7 linked regions of the Homo sapiens genome follow. Changing the gene in region 1 together with any one later gene gives a genetic interaction. Each region holds a gene or a part of one and is shown on either strand. Other genes may lie near its edges. The genes, in order: SEC24C, CTBP1, SEC31A, TRAPPC12, RAB1A, UBE2J1 and NPRL3.

Region 1 (3,500 bases):
GCCACTGCACTCCATCCTGGGCGACAGAGTGAGACTTCGTCTCAGGAAAAAAAAAGTATATGGGAGGTTATATGCAAATATGATGCCGTATAACCCACATCCAATTCTATTGATTCCACCTTCAAGATGTATCCCAAATCTCACTACAGTCATTCCTCAGTATCCATGGGGGAATGGTTCCAGGACCTCCCCTGACCAACAGATACCAAAATCCACAAAGGCTCAAGTCCCTCATATAAACTCTATTCAAGTAGAGATGTTAGGTAGGCAGGTGCATATACAAATCTGCAGCTCAAGACTGATGCTAGGACTGGAGATAAAAATTTGGGAGTCCTCAGTCTATAGATATTTAAAGCCGTGGGACTAGATGAAATCATTTAAAAAGTGAGTATTGAGATTAAAGAATGGAATTGAGGACTGAGACTTGGAGCTTAGCAACATTTAAAAGTAAAGAGGAGCCGCCATTAAAAGACAATGAGGGGCCAGGTGCAGTGCCTCACTCCTGTAATCCCAGCACTTTGGGAGGCTGAGGCAGGCAGATTGCTTGAGCTCAGGAGTTCGAGACAAGCCTGGGCAACATGGTGAAACCCTGTCTCTACCAAAATACTAAAATTAGCCGGGTGTGGTGGCACATGCCTGTGGTCCCAGCTTCTTGGGAGGCTGAGGTGGGAGGATGGCTTGAAACCAAGAGGCGGAGGTTGCAGTGAGCCGAAATCGCACCGCTGCACTCCAACCTGAATGACAGAGTAAGACCCCATCTCAAACAAACAAAAAAAAAACAAAAGACAATGAGAAAGAGCAGTAGTGAGGTGGGAGATAAGCCGGGAGAGTGTGGTGTCCTGAAGTCAGGTGAAGAGAGTATTTCAAGAAGGTGAGAGAGTAATCAGTTGTGTCAGATGCTGCCAAATTGTAAGATGAAGATGGAGAATTGACCATTGAATTTGGCAAGGTTGGCGTCATTGGTAAAGGCAGTTTCAGTGTAGAGATAAAGAAAACTACCCAGTTGGAGTGAGTCAGAGTTTCAGGCCAGGCGCGGTGGCTCATGCCTGTAATTCCAGCACTTTGGGAGGCCGAGGCGGGTGGATTACAAGGTCAGGAGATCGAGACCATCCTGGCTAACACGGTGAAACCCCGTCTCTACTAAAAATACAAAAAATTAGCTGGGCGCGGTGGCAGGCTCCTATAGTCACAGCTACTTGGGGGGCTGAGGCAGGAGAATGGCGTGAACCCAGGAGGCAGAGCTTGCAGTGAGCCGAGATCTTGCCACTGCACTCCAGCCTGGGCGACAGACAGCGAGACTCCGTCTCAGGAAAAAAAAAAAGTTTCAACCGGGTGGTAGATTGACATAATCTGAAAACCCTCTGCTACCAAAGTCTAGAAAGGAGAGAGAAAATAGAAACAAAAAAAATTTTTAAGTGCAAAGTTAAGCTTGAAAGAAAATGTGAAATTCTTAAGTTTTAGAGACCAAGTGAGGACTGAAAATCTTTTTTTTTTTTTAAATACAGAGTCTTGCTCTGTCGCCCAGGCTGGAGTGCAGTGGCACGATCTCTGCTCACTGCAACCTCTACCTCCCAGGTTCAAGCGATTCCCCTGCCTCAGCCTCCCAAGTAGCTGGGACTACAGATGTGGGCCACCATGCCCGGCTAATTTTTGTATTTTTAGTAGAGATGAGGTTTCACCGTGTTGGCCAGGCTGGTCTCAAACTCCTCGCCTCAGGTGAACCGCCCACCTTGGCCTCCCAAAGTGGTGGGATTACAGGCATGGGCCACTGTGCCTGGCCATCAAGTGAGGACTGAAAATCAGAGTGGTAAATTGACTCTGGAGCTGCCTGTAGATTGGGTGGATTCATCATCTTGAGAAGCCAGGGCCTTAAATTTAAGCAGGTACTGGGGAAGGCAGATGAGTCCTTGGGCTTTCCTGAGAGTAGTTTTGGAACTGAGACATTGTTTATAAAGTCTGGACCTGGGCTGCACCTTCATTGAACAAGCTGACTAGGGGAAAAAAGTCTGCACGCTGGAAAGGGGAGATAAGGAGTGCTGTTTCTCTCAGGCTGGCTGTGGATGGGTGAAAAAAAAAGTTCTTGGGACTGCAAATGGACATGACATCTTTTTGGAATGATGAAAATGTTTTAAAATTTGATTCTGGTGATGGTTGCATAACTAAATTTACTAAAAATCATTGAATTGTTCACTTGAAGTGAATTTAATGGTATGGAAATTACATCTCAGTAATATTTTTTTTTTTTTGAGACAGAGTTTTGGTCTTATTGCCCAGGTTGGAGTGCAATAGCACGATCTCAGCTCACTGCAGCCTCTGCCTCCTGGGTTCAAGTGATTCTCCTGCCTCAGCCTCCCAAGTAGCTGGGATTCCAGGCATGACCACCATGCCAGGCTAATTTTTTGTATTTTTAGTAGAGACAGGGTTTCACCATGTTGGCCAGGCTGGTCTTGAACTGACCTCAAGTGATTCACCTGTGTTGGCCTCCCAAAGTTCTGGGATTACAGGTGTGAGTCACTGTTCCTGGCCAATTTTTTTTTTTTTTTTTTTTTTTTTTTTTGAGATGAAGTCTCGCTCTGTCACCCAGGCTGGAGTGAAGTGGTGTGACCTTGGCTCACTGCAACCTCCACCTCCCAGGTTCAAGTGAATCTCCTGTCTGAACCTCTTGAGTAGCTGGGATTACAGGTGTGCACTACCACGCCTGGGCTAATTTTTGTATTTTTTTAGTAGAGATGGAGTTTCACCATGTTGGTCAGGCTGGTCTTGAACTCCTGACCTCAAATGATCCATCTGTCTCGGCCTCCCAAAGTACTGGGATTACAGGCATGAGCCACTGCACCTGGCCTAATTTTTTTTTTTTTTAAATTAGAGGCCAGGTGCAGTGGCTCATGCCTGTAGTAATCTCAACACCTTGGGAGGCTGAGACAGGAGGATCACTTGAGGCCAGAAGTTTTAGACCAGCCTGGGCAACATAGGGAGATCCTGTCGCTATAAAAAAAAAAAAATAGCTGAGCATTGTTGGTGTGCCTGGGAAGCAGAGGTGGAGGCAGGAGGATTGCTAGAGCCCTGGAGGTTGAGGCTACAGTGAGCCATGATGGCTTCGCTGCACTGTGGCCTGGGTGCCAGAGTGAGACCCTGTCTCAAAAACTAAAAAAAAAAAAAAATCAATCTAGGGTGACACTGTCATTATTGGAGTACCTTCTGGAAACAAATGTAGAACAACCACACCTCAGTCCGGGCTGGAAGGGATTATCGGAGAAAGGCACTTTGATTAGAGTTGGGCCAGGCACAGTGCTCATGTTTGTAATCCCAGCACTTTGTGAAGCCGGGGTAGGAGTTCAAGACTATCCTGGGCAGCATAGCAAGACCCTGTCTCTACAAAAAATAAAAAAAATTAGCTAGGTGTGGTGGTGTGTGCCTGTGGTCTCAGATACTTGGGAGGGGAGGCTTAGGGGGAGGATTGCTTGAGCCCAGGAGGTCAAGGCTGCAGTGAGCCACAGATA
Region 2 (3,500 bases), on another chromosome or scaffold:
AGGCCTTCAGTCCTAGCGCCGTGGTGAGCCCAGGGTGGGGCTGGGAAGGGGCTAGGGAGCTGGGCCTTCCCAACGGCGTGCGTGACCACCTTGCTTCCCTGGCTGCCCGCCCTGTGCGGATCCCTGACTGGGCCTGGCCTGTCCTTATGTCTTCTAGATGAGACAAGGGGCCTTCCTGGTGAACACAGCCCGGGGTGGCCTGGTGGATGAGAAGGCGCTGGCCCAGGCCCTGAAGGAGGGCCGGATCCGCGGCGCGGCCCTGGATGTGCACGAGTCGGAACCCTTCAGGTGCCCCCACGGCCAGTGCCGCCCCCCTGCTCTTCCCTGTCCACCATCCTGCCGGCCTTGACCTCCAGACGGCGCCTCTGCCAGGCCGGACACTTGCCTGTACTCAGGCCTCTCGCTGGCCAGCAGTGGGGGAGTTTGCCGCCCGCTGCGGGGTGAGGATGGAGCCACGGGCTCTAGGCCTGCCTTGCCTCGGTCCTGTGAGGGGCTGCTCAACCTCCTCAGCCCTTCTTTGGGCAGGGCTCCTGACCAACCAGGAGAGAGTGAGGCCCCAGTGTCTGTGAGTGGTCCCCATGGGCCCTGGCCATGGAGTCATGGCATCCCGTCCAGACCTGCAGCCCCTACAGCACCTTGGGACCCCAGGCAGCCCTGGGTTGGATGTTCAGCCGCAAGAGGAGACACCCCCACAGGGGCAGTATCAGCCTGCAGCTCCTGGGGCTACAGACCCTTTGGCTGGAAGGGGCCAGGCAGCATGTCCCCCCATCAGGGCTCCTCCCACGAGGGACTTGGAGATTAAATCCCTTGGGCTCCCACACCCGCCGCTGTCAGGAGCCCCTGGTGTGTCTGATGGTCCCGGGGCTGTGCTCTTGAGCTCAGCCAGCCTGCCGAGCAGAGCAGGGCCGTGGGGTCTGTGGTTCCCAGGCAGGGCCCCCCACAGGGGGTTCCAGTGCCCAGCCACCTCCCCTCCGTACCCAGCCACAGCACTCAGGCTGCACTGACCATGCCTGTGCTGTTCCCAGCTTTAGCCAGGGCCCTCTGAAGGATGCACCCAACCTCATCTGCACCCCCCATGCTGCATGGTACAGCGAGCAGGCATCCATCGAGATGCGAGAGGAGGCGGCACGGGAGATCCGCAGAGCCATCACAGGTGGGCGTGGGGGCCGCTCGGTCAGGCCTGGGGGTCCCTTCCTGCCAGCCCCAGATGCTCATGGGCTCGCATCCGCCTGGCAGCCAGGCCCATGTTCTGCCAGCTCAGGGCCCGTGGTGCTCTCACTGCACCCCCAGCAGGGACCTCTAAGGCCAAAGTCAAGTTGAGCCCTGGCGTCGTGTCTTACACACAGGACCTGCTGGGAAGTTGCTGGGCTGAGCAGACAGGTCCCTCAGCAAGCTGGGCACGTGCTCTGGGCTGGGGGTCCCCACGCTGCAAGGGTGCCAGTGCCCAGAGAGACAGGACCCTGCCGTGCCTTGGGAGCCCCGGGGCTGAGAGGGAGGAGCACACTGCCAAGAATCCTGCTGCCCGTGTCTTCAACCCAGTGGGCCACGCTCCTGGGGCCCCCTCAGAGCCACAGCTGTTCCTTCCTCCTGCATCTCCCAGGCCGGATCCCAGACAGCCTGAAGAACTGTGTCAACAAGGACCATCTGACAGCCGCCACCCACTGGGCCAGCATGGACCCCGCCGTCGTGCACCCTGAGCTCAATGGGGCTGCCTATAGGTGAGCAGGCCCGCTGGCCCAGAACAGCCTCCAGGAGGGCCCCAGGCTTCCCCTGGATCCCAGCACAGCCCCTGGTGGGAGGGGCGGCGTCTCCACTGACTGACCTGGAGGATCTGGGTAGAATTGGTAAGGCCAACCTCACCTGAAAGGCCCATGAGAACCAGGGCCTCTTGGAAGGAGCCTGGGCTGGGGTGGCCTTCAGGGCTCAGTGGACACAGGAGTGCCATGGGCACGGGGCCTGTGGGAGGAGGGGGCTTTGGGTGAGGCGAAGACCTCATGTTCAAGTCACCTGGAGACACCAGGGCTCCCCTCCCCAGCCCTGAGAAGTAGCTGCCATAGGCAGGAACATCCGTGTAAAGGCCGGGATCCTTACCCTGACTGCTGGTCCTCCTGGAGAGGCCCCCTCGGTGCTGCCGATGCTAGGAGGGCAGGTGGGGCCTGGCCAGGCCGCCTACAGGTGGGCCTCACGGATGGACCCTCTCCCAGCAGGTACCCTCCGGGCGTGGTGGGCGTGGCCCCCACTGGCATCCCAGCTGCTGTGGAAGGTATCGTCCCCAGCGCCATGTCCCTGTCCCACGGCCTGCCCCCTGTGGCCCACCCGCCCCACGCCCCTTCTCCTGGCCAAACCGTCAAGCCCGAGGCGGATAGAGACCACGCCAGTGACCAGTTGTAGCCCGGGAGGAGCTCTCCAGCCTCGGCGCCTGGGCAGAGGGCCCGGAAACCCTCGGACCAGAGTGTGTGGAGGAGGCATCTGTGTGGTGGCCCTGGCACTGCAGAGACTGGTCCGGGCTGTCAGGAGGCGGGAGGGGGCAGCGCTGGGCCTCGTGTCGCTTGTCGTCGTCCGTCCTGTGGGCGCTCTGCCCTGTGTCCTTCGCGTTCCTCGTTAAGCAGAAGAAGTCAGTAGTTATTCTCCCATGAACGTTCTTGTCTGTGTACAGTTTTTAGAACATTACAAAGGATCTGTTTGCTTAGCTGTCAACAAAAAGAAAACCTGAAGGAGCATTTGGAAGTCAATTTGAGGTTTTTTTTTTTGTTTTTTTTTTTTTTGTATGTTGGAACGTGCCCCAGAATGAGGCAGTTGGCAAACTTCTCAGGACAATGAATCCTTCCCGTTTTTCTTTTTATGCCACACAGTGCATTGTTTTTTCTACCTGCTTGTCTTATTTTTAGAATAATTTAGAAAAACAAAACAAAGGCTGTTTTTCCTAATTTTGGCATGAACCCCCCCTTGTTCCAAATGAAGACGGCATCACGAAGCAGCTCCAAAAGGAAAAGCTTGGGCGGTGCCCAGCGTGCCCGCTGCCCATCGACGTCTGTCCTGGGGACGTGGAGGGTGGCAGCGTCCCCGCCTGCACCAGTGCCGTCCTGCTGATGTGGTAGGCTAGCAATATTTTGGTTAAAATCATGTTTGTGACTGTAACCATTTGTATGAATTATTTTAAAGAAATAAAAATCCTGGAAAGAGCCAGCGTGCCCAGCATCTATTCTGGTGACTTTCTCTCATGAGGACACGGGTGAGCCTCAGTCCTGGCTCTGGTGACCTCCACGGCTCAGCTCAGCCTCTCTGAAGTGGGCGGCCTAAGAGAGACCCAGAGACAGTGCAGTGGCAGGTTGGGCAGTGGTCTCTGTGTGTACCGGGCCTGTCCCTCTGCCCACTGGGTCTGTGGGACGCTGTAGGGTCCTGGCTTGGAGGCGGCCTGCCCGCAGTGCCCCAGTGGGAGGGAAGCAGTGTGCCAGCCGGGCCGTTGTGTGGATGATGGTGTGACTGGCTGAGGTCCTGCC
Region 3 (3,500 bases), on another chromosome or scaffold:
TTAAATATATACAGGCTTAAAAAATTATTTACACTACCCACTCTTATAAACATCCTCTCCTAGCCCTGTGCCAGAATCTCATTGCTATAGTAATTTAAGCATCTGCTCAATGGCATATGTGCAGCATTCATGAGCAAGAGAATGGAAAACATGCTTTTAACTTCTGTTTTGTATGGTTTCTCTGATCTTTTATTTTTGTGTGTATAGTTACCATAAATATATTTTCTATAGGAACATCTGCTCAGCAATTGGATGCAACATTTAGTACGAATGCTTCCCTTGAGATATTTGAATTAGACCTCTCTGATCCATCCTTGGATATGAAATCTTGTGCCACATTCTCCTCTTCTCACAGGTATGAGGTTCAGCTTTAAATTCATGTGATTATTTAATTATATATTGTTCTTGATTCCTAATTTGTCTATAATTATGCCATTATTAGAAACTACAAGGAATACCATCAAGAACATGAAATATTTTGTGAAAAAGCATGTGAGTGAATTTTTATGGAAGTAAAAGTAGTGTTTATGTGTTCTATTGACTTTTTTTTTTCTTTTTTTTTTTTGAGACAGAATCTTACTTCATAGCTCAGGCTGGAGTGCAGTGGCACGATCTCGGCTCACTGCAACCTCCACCTTCCAGGCTCAAGCAATTCTTGTGCCTCAGCCTCCCGAGTAGCTGGGATTACAGGTGCACACCACCTTGCCCAGCTAATTTTGTGTCTTTAGTAGCGACAGGGTTTTGCCATGTTGGCCAGGCTGGTTTTGAACTCTTGACCTCAAGCAATCCACCCACCTTAGCCTCCCAAAGTGCTGAGATTATAGGCATGAGGAATCACGCTTGGCCAGTATGTTCTGTTGGCTTTTTTATTGCTGTTACATGTAAGGTAGGAAGGAGAGGCTGTAGTTTCTAGCATTTTTTTCTGTTTTTTTGGTGTGTGTGTGGTTTTTTTTGTTTTTGTTTTTTTTTTGAGATGGAGTTTCACTCTTGTTGCCCAGGCTGGAGTGCAATGGCGCAATCTCGGCTCACCACAACCTCTGCCTCCTAGGTTCTAGCAATTCTCCTGCCTCAGCCTCCCGAGTAGCTGGGATTACAGGCATGTGCCACCATGCCTGGCTAATTTTGTATAGAGTTCTTTTTTCTATCTCCTTTATTGTGCCTGTTTACAAAAAGGTAGATGTGACTAGAAAAGGAGTAGTCATCGTAAGTATTAATAGTGATTATCTCTGAATGGTAGCTTATTTTTATTTTCTTCTGTTACGATATTTAGAAATATATCTCACAGTTTTGTTGACACGATTTCTAATACACTAGGTAACTAGGTATTTGGATCATACTTTCAAGTACTTATGCCCTATTGTAATGCAGAGAAAGGAGGTCTTCATTTCAGTAATAAAATAAGCTTTATTGCCTCAATATATTAGCAGGGTTTAAAGAGATTGCTCTTTAGCTGACAGAATATAGCTCAAATCATGCAGTTTCATGGGACCGCTCATATTCTTCAGAGCTGTCACAGTGGGATGGGAACCCCAGATACCTTTTGTCTAGTAGTTTTTCTGCTTACTACCATCTGTATCATCGTATACCTTTCTGCCTTCATATTTCATCTCCATTCTGGACCATATATTTTATTCTCTAATAGTAGGGGTACTTGTTATAATCTTGATGTCATTTTTCTACCATTAGAATACATTCTTTTTCTTAGAAAATTTCACATGACTCCTTTAACACCTTTACTATTTAACAGACCACTTGTTAGTGACCCCCCCTTTTTTTTTTTTTCAGACAAAGGTCAAAGCATGAGACCCTTCTATAGTCAAATAAAGAGTGTTTTTACCTTTCGAGGGAAGTGATTGATTAGCTCTATTTTACAATGAACCAGAGGCAATTTAAGAAGATTAAGTAACTTAGGGTCTCACAGTTTCTAAATGGTAAAATCATTCTTAAGCTCATATTTTTTGACACACAACTCAAGTATATTTTGTTACACTACCTTACAAGAGTTTTTACTCTTTAAGGATTACAAAATCACATATGCAAATATGAGTATAAATAAAAAATGAAATACTATTACACCAAAGTCATACATAGTTACCAGGAGTGGTGGGAAAGTAATATATTTGGATTGTTTATGAAAACATTAAAAATTAAGTGTATAATTTCAATTTTTTGTCTACATTTATTTGACTTTAAGAATGAATGATTTTATTCATTTTCTCCTGTAGGTACCACAAGTTGATTTGGGGGCCTTATAAAATGGATTCCAAAGGAGATGTCTCTGGAGTTCTGATTGCAGGTGGTGAAAATGGAAATATTATTCTCTATGATCCTTCTAAAATTATAGCTGGAGACAAGGAAGTTGTGATTGCCCAGAATGACAAGCATACTGGCCCAGTGAGAGCCTTGGATGTGAACATTTTCCAGGTTAAGACTTTAACATTTCATAATTCTTAGACTATGTGCTGCTCATTTGAAATCAGTATATGAATCTACTATGCCTCAGTTTTGGAATTGAAAGTTAAAAAACTGTGGCTATACAGGTTGACGAGTGTTTGTTTAAAGAATGGTGGGTTCAGAGTTGAGATCAGGGTTAAAAATACTACCTCCATGAAAAGGATCCGGCTGATAGGTTTTTGTTTTTGTTTTTGTTTTTGTTTTTTTGAGACGGAGTCTCGCTCTGTCACCAGGCTGGAGTGCAGTGGCATGATCTTGGCTCACTGCAACCTCTGCCTCCTGGGTTCAAGTGATTCTCCTGCCTCAGCCTCCCGAGTAGCTGGGATTACAGGCGCCTGCCACCACGCCCAGCTAATTTTTGTACTTTTAGTAGAGATGGGGTTTCACCATGTTGGCCAGAATGGTCTCGATCTCTTGACCTTGTGATCCGCCCGCCTCGGCCTCCCAAAGTGCTGGGATTACAGACGTGAGCCACTGTGCCCAGCTGGCTAATAGGTTTAAGTCTGAAGATGTCACGCCATTTGATTAGACATTTTATAAACATTAAGATCCCTATAGGTTGGAAACCTTGCCTTTTAAAAGTTCATGCTAGGTCAGCATTAGGCTGGTGCTGTGATGTCCAGGTTAATTCACTGTTTTATTAATTGAGAAATTTTATGTTTATGACAGAGATTAATACTCTATGAAATAATTAGAAATTAAATGTAATGGCTGGGCATGTGGCTCACACCTGTGTAATCCCAGCACTTTGAGAGGCCGAGGCAGACAGATCATGAGGTCAGGAGTTCGAGACCAGCCTGGCCAACGTGGTGAAACCCCGTCTCTACTAAAAATACAAAAATTAGCCGGGCATGGTGGCAGGCACCTGTAATCCCAGCTATTCGGGAGTCTGAGGCAGGAGAATCGCTTGAACCCGGGAGGCGGAGATCGCAGTGAGTTGAGATCGTGCCATTGCACTCCAGCCTGGGCAACGAGCAAAACTCAAAAAAAGAAAAAAGAAATGTAATGCAGATTTAACAAATAGTCAATTAAGATTCTTTGTACTG
Region 4 (3,186 bases), on another chromosome or scaffold:
CTCCTGGCCTCAAGCAATCCTCCTGCCTCTGCCTCCCAAAGTGCTGGGATTACAGGCATGAGCCACTGGGCCCAGCTGAAATGAGTTTTCTGTATCAATTGCAGACCTATGCTTCTGTGACTAAAGTTGATCAGTGGTAAATATGAAAAGAACTGGGTTTTCTAGCTGACTACAGATTTAATATCATCTAGCAACCTATGTGGCTGTTAACATAGCTGTTCTGTCTTTGGATGGTTTAAAATCATCTGACTCCCACACCACAGAGAAGAATCATTCTTGCCTTCCTCTCCAGTCAACAGCTCACAGCCATGGACTGCAGGACACTCCGCCTTGAGAACACTTTAAAATGGCCATTGCCCATCTGTAATGGCTTCCGTGCCACCAAGGTGATGAGGAATCCCAAAACTGTGACAGAGAAGCAGGTGAAGGAGCTGAGAACTGGAGCTCTCCCCCACCCCTCAGTGCCTGTATTAGTTGGGGCTCTCTAGAGGGACAGGACTCATAGAATAGATGAATCTATGAAGGGGAGTTTATTAGGAGAATTGACTCTCGATCACAAGGTGAGGTCCCACAATAGCTGAGGAGCAAGGAAGCCAGTCCAAGTCCCAGAACCTCGGCAAGTCTGCTCTTTCCAACTTCTGCCTGCTTTATTCTGGCTGTGATGGCAGCTGAAGAGATGGTGCCTACCCAGATTAAGGGCGGGTCGGCCTCCCCCAGCCCACTGACTCAAGTGTTCATCTCCTTTGGCAACACCCTCACAGACACACCCAGGATCAATACTTTGCATCCTTCAATTAAATTGACACTCAGTATTAACCTTGACAGCGCCCAAGGAGGGGAGGGCCAGACCCAGCGCACAGTTCCAGTTTCTGCCACGGAAACACTGACCATGTGTTGCTCTTAAGGTCGGAGCTCCAGGGCGGCGTTTCCCCGGGTTTCTGCGTTTATAAGTGATGTTAGTATCTGGTTTGCGTGTGCACAGGTGACATCTCAAAAGGATATGGTGGCTGTTTTCTGTCTTCATATAAGTTAGAAGCTTGCTTTCTCTCTCTCTGGAAAACTTGAGTAATGTGGAATGATCTATTCCCTGAAGGTTTGAGTATTCACCTAAGAATTGCCTTTGCTGAGCACATGAGGTGTGCTGTGTGCTTTTCCTAATTTATTATTATGAATCTGCCTTAGTGTTGTGTGCCTGAGGATTTTTCTGTGTTTCTGGGAACCATTTTGGTAACTGAGAGTTTTCTAGAAAGCCACCTGTTTGGTCCCTGTTTTCTCGTGGATTCGCACAGAGTAAAAGACAGTGCTCTTACCATTATTTCCATTTCCTTGTTCTGCCTGTAGCTATTTCTACTTTTACATTTCTGTTTATGCTTCCTTTTTCTGGATTAGTTTATACACTGTTTTTTGTCTTTTTCTTTGTGAGACAGGATCTTGCTCTGTCTGCCAGGCTGGAGTGCAGTGGCACAGGTATGATTCACTGCAGAACTCCTGGGCTCAAGAGATTCACCTGCCTTAGCCTCTCATGTAGCTGGGGACCACAGTGCTTACGGCCACACCTGGTGCTTACAGCCACACCTGGCTAATTTTCTTTTCTTTTTTAATGGAGACAAGGTCTCACTTTGTTGCCCGGTCTGGTCTTGAACTCCTGAAATTCAGCGATCCTCCCACCTCGGCCTCCCAAAGGGCTGAGATTACAGGTGTGAGCCACCATGCCCAGCCACTGTATTTCCTTTTTAATAGTGTCTTTTACTGATTTGTTTTCTACATATTCTGGAATACTTTTAATTGCATTTTTATGTTTAATTTTTTCAGTTGCTCCTAACTTTTAGAAATCGGTAGGATTTTGTATCCTAATTACATTTTAATAATTCTGAAAATGTCAAGTTACTTTCTAATCATCAGGAAAGTCAGTGGGTAGCAAAGAATATCCCAAGATTTCTCTGTTATCTTCCTCTGAGACATTGAGTAAAGTCCCATGCCAGCCTCAGGAGGCCTTGCAGTGCGGAGGATCAGCACACGGTCTGGGCGTTGGACAGCCTGGGTGTTGACCACAGTGTTCTGTGTTAGCTGTGTGACCTCAGAAAATTGTCTCATCTTTCCAAGCCCGACGACTTCATCTAGAAAGCGAAGCTAGCGACAGCATCTGCATCCCAGGCTGTCGCGAGGGTCAGGCGAGCTGTGCTTGTAAGCGCTTGCCACGGCCGCCGGCACACGTTAATCTTGATCGGTCTTGATGATGGGCTGTAATCATCTTCAGTTCAGTGTCTCACACGGTCCTGTTAGACAGGAGATGCAGGCGTTCGAGCTGAGGGCCGCGTCACGGAGCCCATGCTGCCTTCGGTTTCTTTTTAGTCCGCAAGTGGGAAATCGATAGTAGTGGACTTCAAACGGCTTCGGACTGTGCAGACGACGGGCAGCGATGGACAGATGCCATTCAGTGTGTGGTGTGTGTGCACGCCTGTGTTTTCTCTTGTTTCATTCTGTTTTTTCTTCCTCCTCGTATGGTATTTCTTTTGTGGGATAACAGCAACAGTTGTGAAGGGCCTGAGATGTTATCCTGTTTCCAAGCTGTGGAGTTAGCTGCCACTTTCATGGATGCTGGCAAAAAATGTAAGATTCCTACGTTAGAGAGGAAGGCTATTTATTACACAGCAACAGCAGTACAGCCAGAGTGGCATTCTTCCCACCAGCCACGGGGCCCTGATTCCTCAGGGTCTTCACCGAGGGCCTCATGAGGCCTGCAGTGGGCTGTGTGGCTGGAGAGGAATCCTGAACTTAGAACACCCAAATCCTTGCTACTGGGAGGCGAGCCTGCCTGCCCTTTGCCCCAGAGGGATGCAGTTTAGCTTACAAGGCTGTCCTCTAAACAGGCATCCTTGTGTAAATGCTTTGAACAAAGCCTTGTCACTGTCTGTGCTTGGAAGACATGCAGAAACATGACACCCATGGAGAACCATCTCCCCACCAGTCATCTGAGAAGTTAGCAGGCTTGTTTTAATGCTGGACAGATGCTTGGCGTGGACAGTCTAAGAGTTAACTAGGCTGCTCAGTATGATAGTGATGGGTGCCCCAGCCCTCCTCATGGAGGTGAGCCGCGCGCATTCAGCTTGTTTCTCATCGAGACAGAGGACAGCATTCTGTTAAGTTTCTGCTGCTGCCATGATAACAGAGCTCGCTGTCACATTC
Region 5 (2,877 bases), on another chromosome or scaffold:
TTAAAACCTGTAGTAGCTTTGAACCGTTTGTACTTGAAAATGGGGGTATAAAGGGGTATATATTTTTTCCAGAACCACATTTATTGGCGTATACATAGAAGCAAATCTTAAGGCATGCTGAAATTTGTTGTAAATCCCAATCTTTACTGCCATGGGGAAAAGAACGCTGGAATTTTCCAAACTTAAGTCTGTAAATATGCTCATCTTAAGTTCATGTAATGTTTCCGCTAACTCACCAAGAATAAGCTGACAATTTAAACAACTTTTACTGTGTAAAAATGAAGTGCACGGCATGGCATCACAGTATCTTGACATTTGTTTTGTGTCATTTAGCTACTTTAGAAAATAGTTTCTGAACTCTTTCCCCCTTTATACTGTATTAAGGCAAAAACAAAACTTCTGAAGCATTAAAGATCTTCACCAAAATAACTATTGGTAACTTCAGGAATTTGTCAGTTGCCTTATGTGAGGATGAATAGATCCACCAAGCACGCCTATAATACAAAGTAAACTATGATTTTTATTGTGAAATTTTCATAGATGGAAAATTGAATATTCTGTCCATTTCATTTTACAATTATCTTACCACTTATTTTTGTACCATGTATTTCAATTGCCTGTTTAGTGAAAAATAAAAATTAAAAAAACCTATTCATTTTTGGCTTGTGTTTAGCTTAAATTTTATCATTAAATTAAGGAGCCCACAACAAAATGTGTTGCCAGCAGCCATATCCCAAGCCCCTGCGTGAAGAATGTTTTGGCTGCTATTTCAACCTAAGGAAACAACGTTTGACCTCAGTCACCTTAAAATGCCAGTGTGGGCAGAAGATTTTTTATTCCTCACAATTAAAAACCAAACAAAACCCCCTAGGATCTTGAAGGTCCTATTTCAGAAAATCTTCATATATGCAAAATGTCACCAAAATAAATACATTTGCCTCAATTATCATTACCACCCAGTATTCATGTTTTAATTTTTAGGGATATAATTTCTAAATTTAGAGCAATCAAATTTCCTGCTTCCTATCTTAATGCTTAAACCCTCCTCCAACACCAAGTTAAGCAACTGTGGAGGATAAAATAGTTGAATCTGACTGAAAGCATGGAAGAAAAACATTAGCACACATTAGTCTGATCATTTGCCAATTAGGAAAGGTGCTGCTTTCTACCTCTACCACAGATGCATTTATGAAATGTTGATCAATGAAGCTATTTCAAATGGTTTTAGAGAAGGATCAGAGATAACGGGCTAGATAGCATACATTCTAAACTTGTTTTACATATAGTTTGAGCTCCCTGAACCACTGAAGTTGGTTAAATCCCTACACAGCACAGAAGCCCCTCTAGGTCATGTTATTGGGCATATTATCTAGAAAGCAAATACTGGATGCTGCTCTAAGATAGGTCTAGAATACCTTAGTTTGCATTGTGCACACACAAATGGCTGTGTTGAATATAATGCAAGGCTCTATTTCCCTTTAACCATAAGAATCAAAACAATACTTATCACCATACAGTTTGATATTACTTCCAATAAGTACAATATTTATTAAACATATCTTCAGTTGTTTTGTTACATAGTGTGCAACAAATTACAATATTCTGCAGCCACAAATTATATGCAGAGTATGAAGAAACTATTAATCAGATAGTGTAATCTTTCCATTTATAACTCTACAAGGAAGAACTAGCAAATCAGATCTTACATATAACATCTCACTAAACTTTATGCATGGAAAGTGACAGACACTGCTTGTGCTGTTTGATACAAAATGGCTGAACTTCATCTTCAGAAGACTAAACCTGACATCTAAACATGCCAATATAAACATCAAAACAAAATATATTCTAACCAACCACGGGAAACAGTCTGGTATCAGGAAAGCAACAAGGATTACACACATTATTTTATAAACCAGCACACAAAGGTTTAAAACAGTTCTGAAAATGAAGTTAGCTGTCTTGAGTCAAGGGAATAAAAAAAAAGTCAGTATTGACCATTTACAATCTCTGACCTTTGTGGAGACGGTAAGAATCTGTTGTAGTGCAGCTACATACAGTACAATTCAGGCAATTTTGTTTTTTCACTTGGGTTCAGATTGCAAATTCATTGCTGTGAGAAAAGGATGGAGGCAAATTTTAGCAGCAACCTCCACCTGACTGCTTGACTGGAGTGCTCTGAATTTTAACATTGGACTTCTCAGCACCACCAGCTGTTGCTCCGGGACCCATTCGCTTTTTAATCTCAGCTGCCATCGTCATGAAAGACTGTTCTACATTCGTTGCATTCTTAGCACTGGTTTCCAAAAACGGAATTCCAAGGGAATCAGCAAATTCCTAAGAGAATAATGAGGCACAATTAACACTGAAAAATCTTTTTCACTAATTCTTAGTGCATTTCTACCATCCATAATGGAGCGTGAGGAACTAAGTTCATTGGATCCAAACAGATGCTACACAAATTGTCACTGTCACAGTATTCTAGTGCACATATTTTTAAAAGGCTGTGGCCTTACTGTTACTGCAGAACCCATACATAATTCAACACCTTCAAATTCAGTATGAAAATTAAACTTTAAACATACCTTCGCTGTTGTGTAGTCTACTACTTTCTTTGTGGTCAGATCACATTTGTTCCCTACCAACAATTTGTTGACATTTTCACTGGCATAACGATCTATTTCCTGCAGCCACTGTTTAACATTATTGAAGGACTCCTAAAAAGACATTTGAAAGACTGATAATATAGTTCGATAATATAGTTCTGGAATAAACAGAAACATCGTTCCTGACCTAACAGACAAATAACAAAGAGCTAGTGAGACAACTCTAGCTACAAAATAACCACTGCTAAGGAGTGAAGAGATTTTTTTTTTT
Region 6 (3,500 bases), on another chromosome or scaffold:
AAAGAATATTAATAATTGTGAAGTAGGATAGTAACAACTTTTTTTTGGCCAGGCATGCTGATTCCCGCCTGTAATCTCAGCACTTTGGAAGGCTGAGGTAGGAGGATTGCCCGAGACCAGCCTGGGCAAGACAGGGGGACCCCAGCTCTACAAAAAATTTAAAAATTAGCCAGGCATGGTGGTGCATGCCTGTGGTCTCAGCTATTGGGGAGGCCAAGGTGGGAGGACTGCATGAGCTTGGGAGGTTGAGGCTTCAGTGAGTGAGCTGTGTTCGTACCACTGCCCTCCGGCCTGGAGGGCTTTTTTTTTTTTTTTTAGACGTAGTTTCGCTCTTGTTGCCCAGGCTGGAGTGCAACAGCACGATCTCAGCTCACTGCAGCCTCCACTTCCTGGGTTTAAGCGATTCTCCTGCCTCAGCCTCCCTAGTAGCTGGGATTATAGGCATGTGCCATCACACCAGGCTAATTTTGTATTTTTAGTAGAGATGGGGTTTCACTATGCTGGTCAGGCTGGTTTCAAACTCCTGACCTCAGGTGATCCACCTGCCTCGGCCTCCCAAAGTGCTGGGATTACAGGCCTAAGCCACCGTGCCTGGTTTTGTTTGTTTGTTTGTTTGTTTTATTGAGATAGTCTCTCTCTGAAGCCCAGGCTGGAGTGCAATGGCACGACCTCAGCTCACTGCAACCTCCACCTCCTGGGTGCAAGCGATTCTCCTGCCTCAGCCTCCCGAGTAGCTGGGATTACAGGCGTCCGCCACCATGCCTGGCTAATTTTTGTATTTTTAGTAGAGACAGGGTTTCACCATGTTGGCCAGGCTAGTCTCGAACTCTTGACCTCAGGTGATCCACTCGCCTCGGTCTCCCAAAGTGCTAGGATTACAGGCATGAGCCACCACGCCTGGCCTCAAATGCAATTTTATGCAAAAGTCTTGATACATACCAAACCATTGTGGTTATATACATGTAGGGGTTCCTTCTCAGTTAATCTCTCTCCCCATAACATTCCAACCTGTGCCTCTACACATTTTACTTTTATTATTACCTCTTCCTATTCATATCTACCTGGGGAGTTTCTACTGTTATTTCTTTCACATTCAGTACCTGACTCCTTTTCTCTTCCATTTGCTCTAAAGTTAGATGCCCAGCCTGTCCTCCCAGCATCTGGTGCATACCTCTCTTTTGAGCTACATCAGTGGTTGCAAACCCAGTTTTGAGAAGCCTTTTCCCTAACTCAGCCATCCCACTGCAGTATCCTGACATGTTTTAGCACCAAAAGCTTGAAATGAGAGGGGTTGGGATCCAGAGTGCATATCAAAGGATTGAATTTTGAGAGCCAATAGAAGACAGAGGGTGCAGATACAGATAGGATTGTAGATTGTGATAGGCATCTGAGCAGCTCCTGCTAGCAGTCATTCATCAGGGAGATAAAAAGCTGGGTGCCATTAACTGAAAGAGAGGAGAAATTAGACTAGGTGGGAAATAATCTTGGAGTGCTAGGTGGAAAGAGTAGGCTGGAAGGCCTACTAGAGAAATGTGGGGACATTAGGTGGCATTGTATCCCAGTAGAGGTTGTTGGTAATGACTTGTAATGGCATTACTGCACCATCCTCTCTGACTTTTTTTCCTCCTTTCAGTGATGCTCAGCTGTTTGGGTATAGACAGCAAATAAGATGGTTGGGTTGGGTCAGGCACAGTTGGATTTTATTAAGGGAGTGTACAAGAGGGACTCCTAAGAGCCAAGGGTGTGGATAAAGAGGAAAATGAATATAAGTATAGGAGGGGTGAAGAAAGTTGTGGGGTCAGTGGACTGGAGGTTTTAGTGAAGCTGAAGGATCATTTCAAGAAGGAATTTCATCGGGGCTTTGGAGAGTCAGTGAATTCAGGGGACAGTCCATTCATTTAATGCAAGATAGTGGATGGAAAGTCCCAAGAGTTGGAGGATATAGAGGTGTTTCCTGTTCACCGAGCATGAGATCCAGAGAATACATTTTTTGTTAATAAAGACATTTTAACAGGTAGAGCCAAATTGCCTGTGTTGGAATCCCATCTCTGTCATTTACTAGCTGTGTGACTATATAATCTCTCCGTGTCTCGGCTTCTTCATCTGGAAAATGGGGATAAAAATAATACCTATCTAGTAATGTTGTATTAAGGGTTAAATGAGTTATTAATGTCTGTAAAAGCACTTCAATAAATACCACCATATAGGAAGTATATATAAGTACTTATTAAATAAAAATAGTGTCTTCACTATATATTTAATATATAACTCTTTTAAAGTGTTAATGCCTAGCAACTGTTTCCTTCCTCTCCCCCTCTATTTATTCCCATAATCTTATAATTAAACCTTTGCCATATGCTCATTTGCACTAGTTCTCTACACATTTTTTCATTAGGCTCGTAAGACTGTGCTAATCATTCAGAAAAGTATATTTTAAATATCTCTATTTTATGAATTTTATTTTAGCTGTTAAACGTTTAATGAAAGAAGCGGCAGAATTGAAAGATCCAACAGATCATTACCATGCGCAGCCTTTAGAGGTTAGTTTCTATCTCCATGTTCTTCATATGGATTTTAATATTTAAAACAAATTTTTTAAAATTGCTTTTCATTGCTTTGAGTCATTACAGATGTGTGTGATGTAGTTTGACGTTTTATTCACCATATTTCATGAATATTTCATTAGCCATTCCAAATCACTTTAGAAGAAACGGATTTTGTGGTCTTTATAAAATGGGTCTCAGATGCTAAGTTGAGGTTAGATCTTTTTTTTTTTTTTTTTTTTTTTGAGGCGGAGTCTCACTGTGTTGCCCAGGCTGGAGTGCAGTGATGTGATCTCGGCTCACTGCAACCTCTACCTCCCAGGTTCAAGCAATTCTCCTGCCTCAGCCTCCTGAATAGCTGGGATTACAGGCCCCCACCACCACGCCCGGCTAATTTTTGTATTTTTAGTAGAGACAGGGTTTCACCATGTTGGTCAGGCTGGTCTCAAACTCCTGACCTCGTGATCCACCCGCCTTGGCCTCCCAAAGTGCTGGGATTACAGGCGTGAGCCACTGCACCCGGCCGAGGTTAGATCTTGAGTCTGAGGGAGGGGAGGTGGAAAGAACCCCAGATACTTTACAGTTTGGAAGCCTTTTGATGGGTCTCCGTAGCTACTCAAGGCTTTTTGTATAAACATCTCGGCCTCTCTCAGTCTTCTCATTTGTAAAAGGAGGGTATTTAAATATACCCAGGCAGGTTTTCATGGTAACAGTGGGAATAAAAATATCATAACTTAAGTGCAAGTATTTTGTAAACTGAAAAGTACATGGTAACTGTAAGATGACATTAAATACATTAGTATTACCATTTTATAAATAAGCTCTTAGGCATCTATAAGGGATAATTTTTAAAGATTTGTTAAAATAACCCAAACATAGTAATTTTTTGATTATATAATTATCATAATTTGCTATTCTTTCAAGGATTAATTTCCAATTTAAACCTGTAAGTTACTT
Region 7 (3,500 bases), on another chromosome or scaffold:
CAGCCAGATGCTGGGTGGCCCCGGTGTGTGGTGGGAGCCTGTGCAGGTGTGATCCAGATGTTCCCCTGGCCCCTCTCCCTTCCCAGGAGGGTGAGCGGGCCTTGCAGAGCTGGCTGGCAGCTGGGGGCTCCCTTTCTGAGAAGAGGGCCTTTCTGCCTGTGCGTCAGCACAGGGAGCGTGCTGTGGCCATGTCTAGGGCCATGGCTCCCTGATCACCCAGGAGGAAGTTGGAGTGGGGAGGGGGACCAGCCTCACCTGCTGCCACCCGCAGACCCAGCTCATCCAGATGGTGGTGTGGATGCTGCAGCGCCGGCTTCTCATCCAGCTGCACACCTATGTCTGCCTGATGGCCTCACCCAGCGAGGAGGAGCCCCGTCCGCGAGAGGACGACGTCCCCTTCACTGCCCGGGTCGGCGGTCGCAGCCTCAGCACGCCCAACGCCCTCAGCTTTGGCTCCCCAAGTAGGACCCCCAGGGCACCGCTGTGGTAGTCAGGGGAGACGCTTGGGGGTGGCATCCAGGAGGCTCAACGTGGGTGGTGCTGTGAGTGATGAGGGGCCTCCACACAGCTGCACACGCACATGCACGTGCCTCGTGTCCCCCGTGGAGACACCTCTCCTGTCTCCTAGCACCACCGTGACTCTGAGGTGGCAGCTCTGTCTCCGGGCTCTTCAGCAGGCTTGCTAGAATTAGGGGCAGCTCCCAGCCCAGCAAATCAGTGCTGGAATCTCTGCCCCAGCCTGGGAGCAGAGCAGGATCTCATACCACTACCAGGACAGCTGACACCTCTGCGCCCCAGAAGAGCCGTCATGGCCAGTGTGGCTTGAGGGCAGCAGCCTGTTGCCAGGTCCCAGGTCCCCGGTCCCCAGGCTTGGGGAAGGAAGGGGGTGGAAGACTTTGAAAGTCCCCCCTTGGCTGAGGTCTGGCTGTAGGCTTCATGCTTCATGTGAGGACCCCACCTGCCCAGGGTGCTTTGTCCTCCATCCTGGGTGAGGGACAGGATGCCCAGGCCCACCTTGGGGTGTTTGTGGGGCACACATCGCACCTCTGTTCAGGTCCCTTGAGGTTGCCCCCAGAGGGGAGGCTACCCGTTTCCCAAGTCAGCCGTATGAGGGGCGTGTCACACCCAGGAGGTGGGGCAGCAGCGAATGCTTGCAGGCAGATGTACCCTAACCCTTGTAGGAGTTAGGGGTGTCATTGGAGGCTGGCTGCTGGCTCTGCCCTCGCTGTTCCCCTGGGTGTCCTGGAATTCCACTTGGTCACCCTGACCCATGTCCCCCACAGCCAGCAGCGATGACATGACCCTCACCAGCCCCAGCATGGACAACTCCAGCGCAGAGCTACTTCCCAGCGGGGACTCGCCACTGAACCAGAGGATGACGGAGAACCTGCTGGCCAGCCTGTCGGAGCATGAACGCGCAGCCATCCTCAGTGTACCCGCAGCCCAGAACCCTGAGGACCTCCGCATGTTTGCCAGGTGGGTGTAGGTTGACCCGTTGGGACTGGGGCCAGTTGCAGGGTCAGGGCAGAAAGTGGATAGGGACGTACGCAACAGAACCACCAAATCCACTGAGAACAGATGGGGCCCTGTTCGAGATGGAGTCTCTGCATTCAGGTGTGTAGGGGCAGGTGCCACTGCCCAGGCCTGAGGGTTCGGCTTGTCACCAAGACGCCGGGCCATGGGCCTGGCATGCCTATTTTTCGGACTCTTCTCTCTCCAGTACTTCTTAGATGTTCCTTTTCCCTTGAGAGGCAGTGCCAAGTTCTTTTTTTTTTTTTTTTTTTTTGAGACGGAGTCTCGCTCTGTCACCCAGGCCGGACTGCGGACTGCAGTGGCGCAATCTCGGCTCACTGCAAGCTCCGCTTCCCGGGTTCACGCCATTCTCCTGCCTCAGCCTCCTGAGTAGCTGGGACTACAGGCGCCCGCCACCACGCCCGGCTAATTTAAGTGCCAAGTTCTCACCCTCATGGGACTTGGCAGGGGTTTGCCCAGGACTGTAAGCCCTGCGGGCATCCAGGGTCCCCCATGTTAAAGGTGATGTGGCTCAGTGGTCTCTGTCAGCCCCACCCTGACTTGGGGGACAGTGCAGGGGCATAGTTTCCCGGGAGTGGTCGGGTTGTCAGGGACTGAGTTTCCGGTTGAGAACCACACTCGGCCCTCGAGAGAACCACTTGCAACTCTTCTGAGCAGCTGGTCCAGGTCTCACCTGCATCCTAGCCTCCTCTGTGCCAGCCTGAGTTGCAGAAAGCACCCTAAAGCAGTGACCTTCCAAATGATGGTGACATTAAAAAAAAAAAAAAAAAAAGTCAGGCGCGGTGGCTCATGCCTGTAATCCCAGCACTTTGGGAGGCTGAGGTGGGTGGATCACGAGGTCAGGAGATCGAGATCATCCTGGCTAACATGGTGAAACCCCGTCTCTACTAAAAAATACAAAAAATTAGCTGGGTGTGGTGGCGGGCGCCTGTAGTCCCAGCTACTGGGGAGGCTGAGGCAGGAGAATGGCCTGAAGGCGGGAGGCGGAGCTTGGCGGGAGGAGGAGAATGGCGGGAAGGCGGGAGTTGCAGTGAGCCCAGATCGCGCCACTGCACCTCCAGCCTGGGCAGCAGAGCGAGACTCCGTCTCAAAAAAAAAAAAGCAGGCTGGGCACAGTGGCTCACGGTTATAATCTCAGCACTTTGGGAGGCTGAGGTGGGTGGATCACCTGAGTTCAGGAGTTCGAGACCAGCCTGGCCAACATATAATGAAACCCTGTCTCTACTAAAAAAGAGAGAAATTAGCCAGGTGTGGTAGCGCACTCCTGTAGTCCCAGCTTACCTGGGAAGCTGACGCAGGAGAATCGCTTGAATCTGGGAGGCGGGAGGTTGCAGTGAGCTGAGATCGAGCCACTGCAATCTAGCCTGGGTGACTGAGTGAGACTCCGTCTCTCAAAAAAAGGAAAAAAAAAAGCAGTGACCATTTGGCTCCAGAGCTACGTGGGACTCACTGTAGCACGAAAAAGAAGCCACCAGCAGAACCCTGGTCCCAACATCAGGACGCAGGCTTGGGCACCTCTGGGTTTGAACAGCCGTCTGCCGTCCTGAACCCACTCCGCCCACCTGGTGGTCAGCGGGACCGTGGTGGGCATGGGGTCCAGGAGGCCTGCCCACCCTTGTTGGGGGGCTGTGGTGGCTGCCTCCCTGGCCTTCACCACCAGCTCTGTTCAGGCCTGTGGGCAGCTCAGAGCTGATTCCCAGCAGTGGCTCTTCAGCAGAGGCCTCTGGGGGCTGGTGTCAGGTTGGGCTCACACCCACCCATCCCTTCCAGGCTCCTTCACTACTTCCGCGGCCGCCACCACCTGGAGGAGATTATGTACAACGAGAACACGCGGCGCTCCCAGCTGCTCATGCTGTTTGACAAGTTCCGCAGCGTGCTGGTGGTGACCACCCACGAGGACCCTGTCATTGCCGTCTTCCAGGCTCTGCTCCCCTGAGCCCAGGCGGAGGGCGGAAGGCTGCTGGGGT

What was found.
Region 2: changes in SEC24C (region 1) and CTBP1 together harm fitness less than expected from each alone (positive genetic interaction), as found in Homo sapiens cells (one large-scale study listed by BioGRID).
Region 3: changes in SEC24C (region 1) and SEC31A together harm fitness less than expected from each alone (positive genetic interaction), as found in Homo sapiens cells (one large-scale study listed by BioGRID).
Region 4: changes in SEC24C (region 1) and TRAPPC12 together harm fitness less than expected from each alone (positive genetic interaction), as found in Homo sapiens cells (one large-scale study listed by BioGRID).
Region 5: changes in SEC24C (region 1) and RAB1A together harm fitness less than expected from each alone (positive genetic interaction), as found in Homo sapiens cells (one large-scale study listed by BioGRID).
Region 6: changes in SEC24C (region 1) and UBE2J1 together harm fitness less than expected from each alone (positive genetic interaction), as found in Homo sapiens cells (one large-scale study listed by BioGRID).
Region 7: changes in SEC24C (region 1) and NPRL3 together harm fitness less than expected from each alone (positive genetic interaction), as found in Homo sapiens cells (one large-scale study listed by BioGRID).

What each region holds. Positions count from the first base shown.
Region 1 is NC_000010.11:73,754,372-73,757,871, forward strand, and holds part of SEC24C (protein transport protein Sec24C), read left to right. Parts: intron 1-3,500. UniProt on the Homo sapiens protein: Component of the coat protein complex II (COPII) which promotes the formation of transport vesicles from the endoplasmic reticulum (ER).
Region 2 is NC_000004.12:1,211,131-1,214,630, reverse strand, and holds the end of CTBP1 (C-terminal-binding protein 1), read left to right. Parts: intron 1-157; coding exon 158-288; intron 289-1,025; coding exon 1,026-1,153; intron 1,154-1,600; coding exon 1,601-1,718; intron 1,719-1,860; exon of another isoform or gene 1,861-1,956; intron 1,957-2,091; exon of another isoform or gene 2,092-2,204; coding exon of another isoform or gene 2,205-2,207; coding exon 2,208-2,391; 3' UTR 2,392-3,186; downstream 3,187-3,500. UniProt on the Homo sapiens protein: Corepressor targeting diverse transcription regulators such as GLIS2 or BCL6. Has dehydrogenase activity. Involved in controlling the equilibrium between tubular and stacked structures in the Golgi complex.
Region 3 is NC_000004.12:82,877,654-82,881,153, reverse strand, and holds part of SEC31A (protein transport protein Sec31A), read left to right. Parts: intron 1-231; coding exon 232-355; intron 356-2,225; coding exon 2,226-2,424; intron 2,425-3,500. UniProt on the Homo sapiens protein: Component of the coat protein complex II (COPII) which promotes the formation of transport vesicles from the endoplasmic reticulum (ER).
Region 4 is NC_000002.12:3,473,694-3,476,879, forward strand, and holds part of TRAPPC12 (trafficking protein particle complex subunit 12), read left to right. Parts: intron 1-3,186. UniProt on the Homo sapiens protein: Component of the TRAPP complex, which is involved in endoplasmic reticulum to Golgi apparatus trafficking at a very early stage.
Region 5 is NC_000002.12:65,086,354-65,089,230, forward strand, and holds the end of RAB1A (ras-related protein Rab-1A), read right to left. Parts: intron 2,718-2,877; coding exon 2,586-2,717; intron 2,338-2,585; coding exon 2,140-2,337; 3' UTR 501-2,139; downstream 1-500. UniProt on the Homo sapiens protein: The small GTPases Rab are key regulators of intracellular membrane trafficking, from the formation of transport vesicles to their fusion with membranes.
Region 6 is NC_000006.12:89,342,723-89,346,222, reverse strand, and holds part of UBE2J1 (ubiquitin-conjugating enzyme E2 J1), read left to right. Parts: intron 1-2,466; coding exon 2,467-2,540; intron 2,541-3,500. UniProt on the Homo sapiens protein: Catalyzes the covalent attachment of ubiquitin to other proteins. Functions in the selective degradation of misfolded membrane proteins from the endoplasmic reticulum (ERAD) and is essential for cells to recover from ER stress.
Region 7 is NC_000016.10:86,674-90,173, reverse strand, and holds part of NPRL3 (GATOR1 complex protein NPRL3), read left to right. Parts: intron 1-271; coding exon 272-461; intron 462-1,283; coding exon 1,284-1,476; intron 1,477-3,303; coding exon 3,304-3,469; 3' UTR 3,470-3,500. UniProt on the Homo sapiens protein: As a component of the GATOR1 complex functions as an inhibitor of the amino acid-sensing branch of the mTORC1 pathway.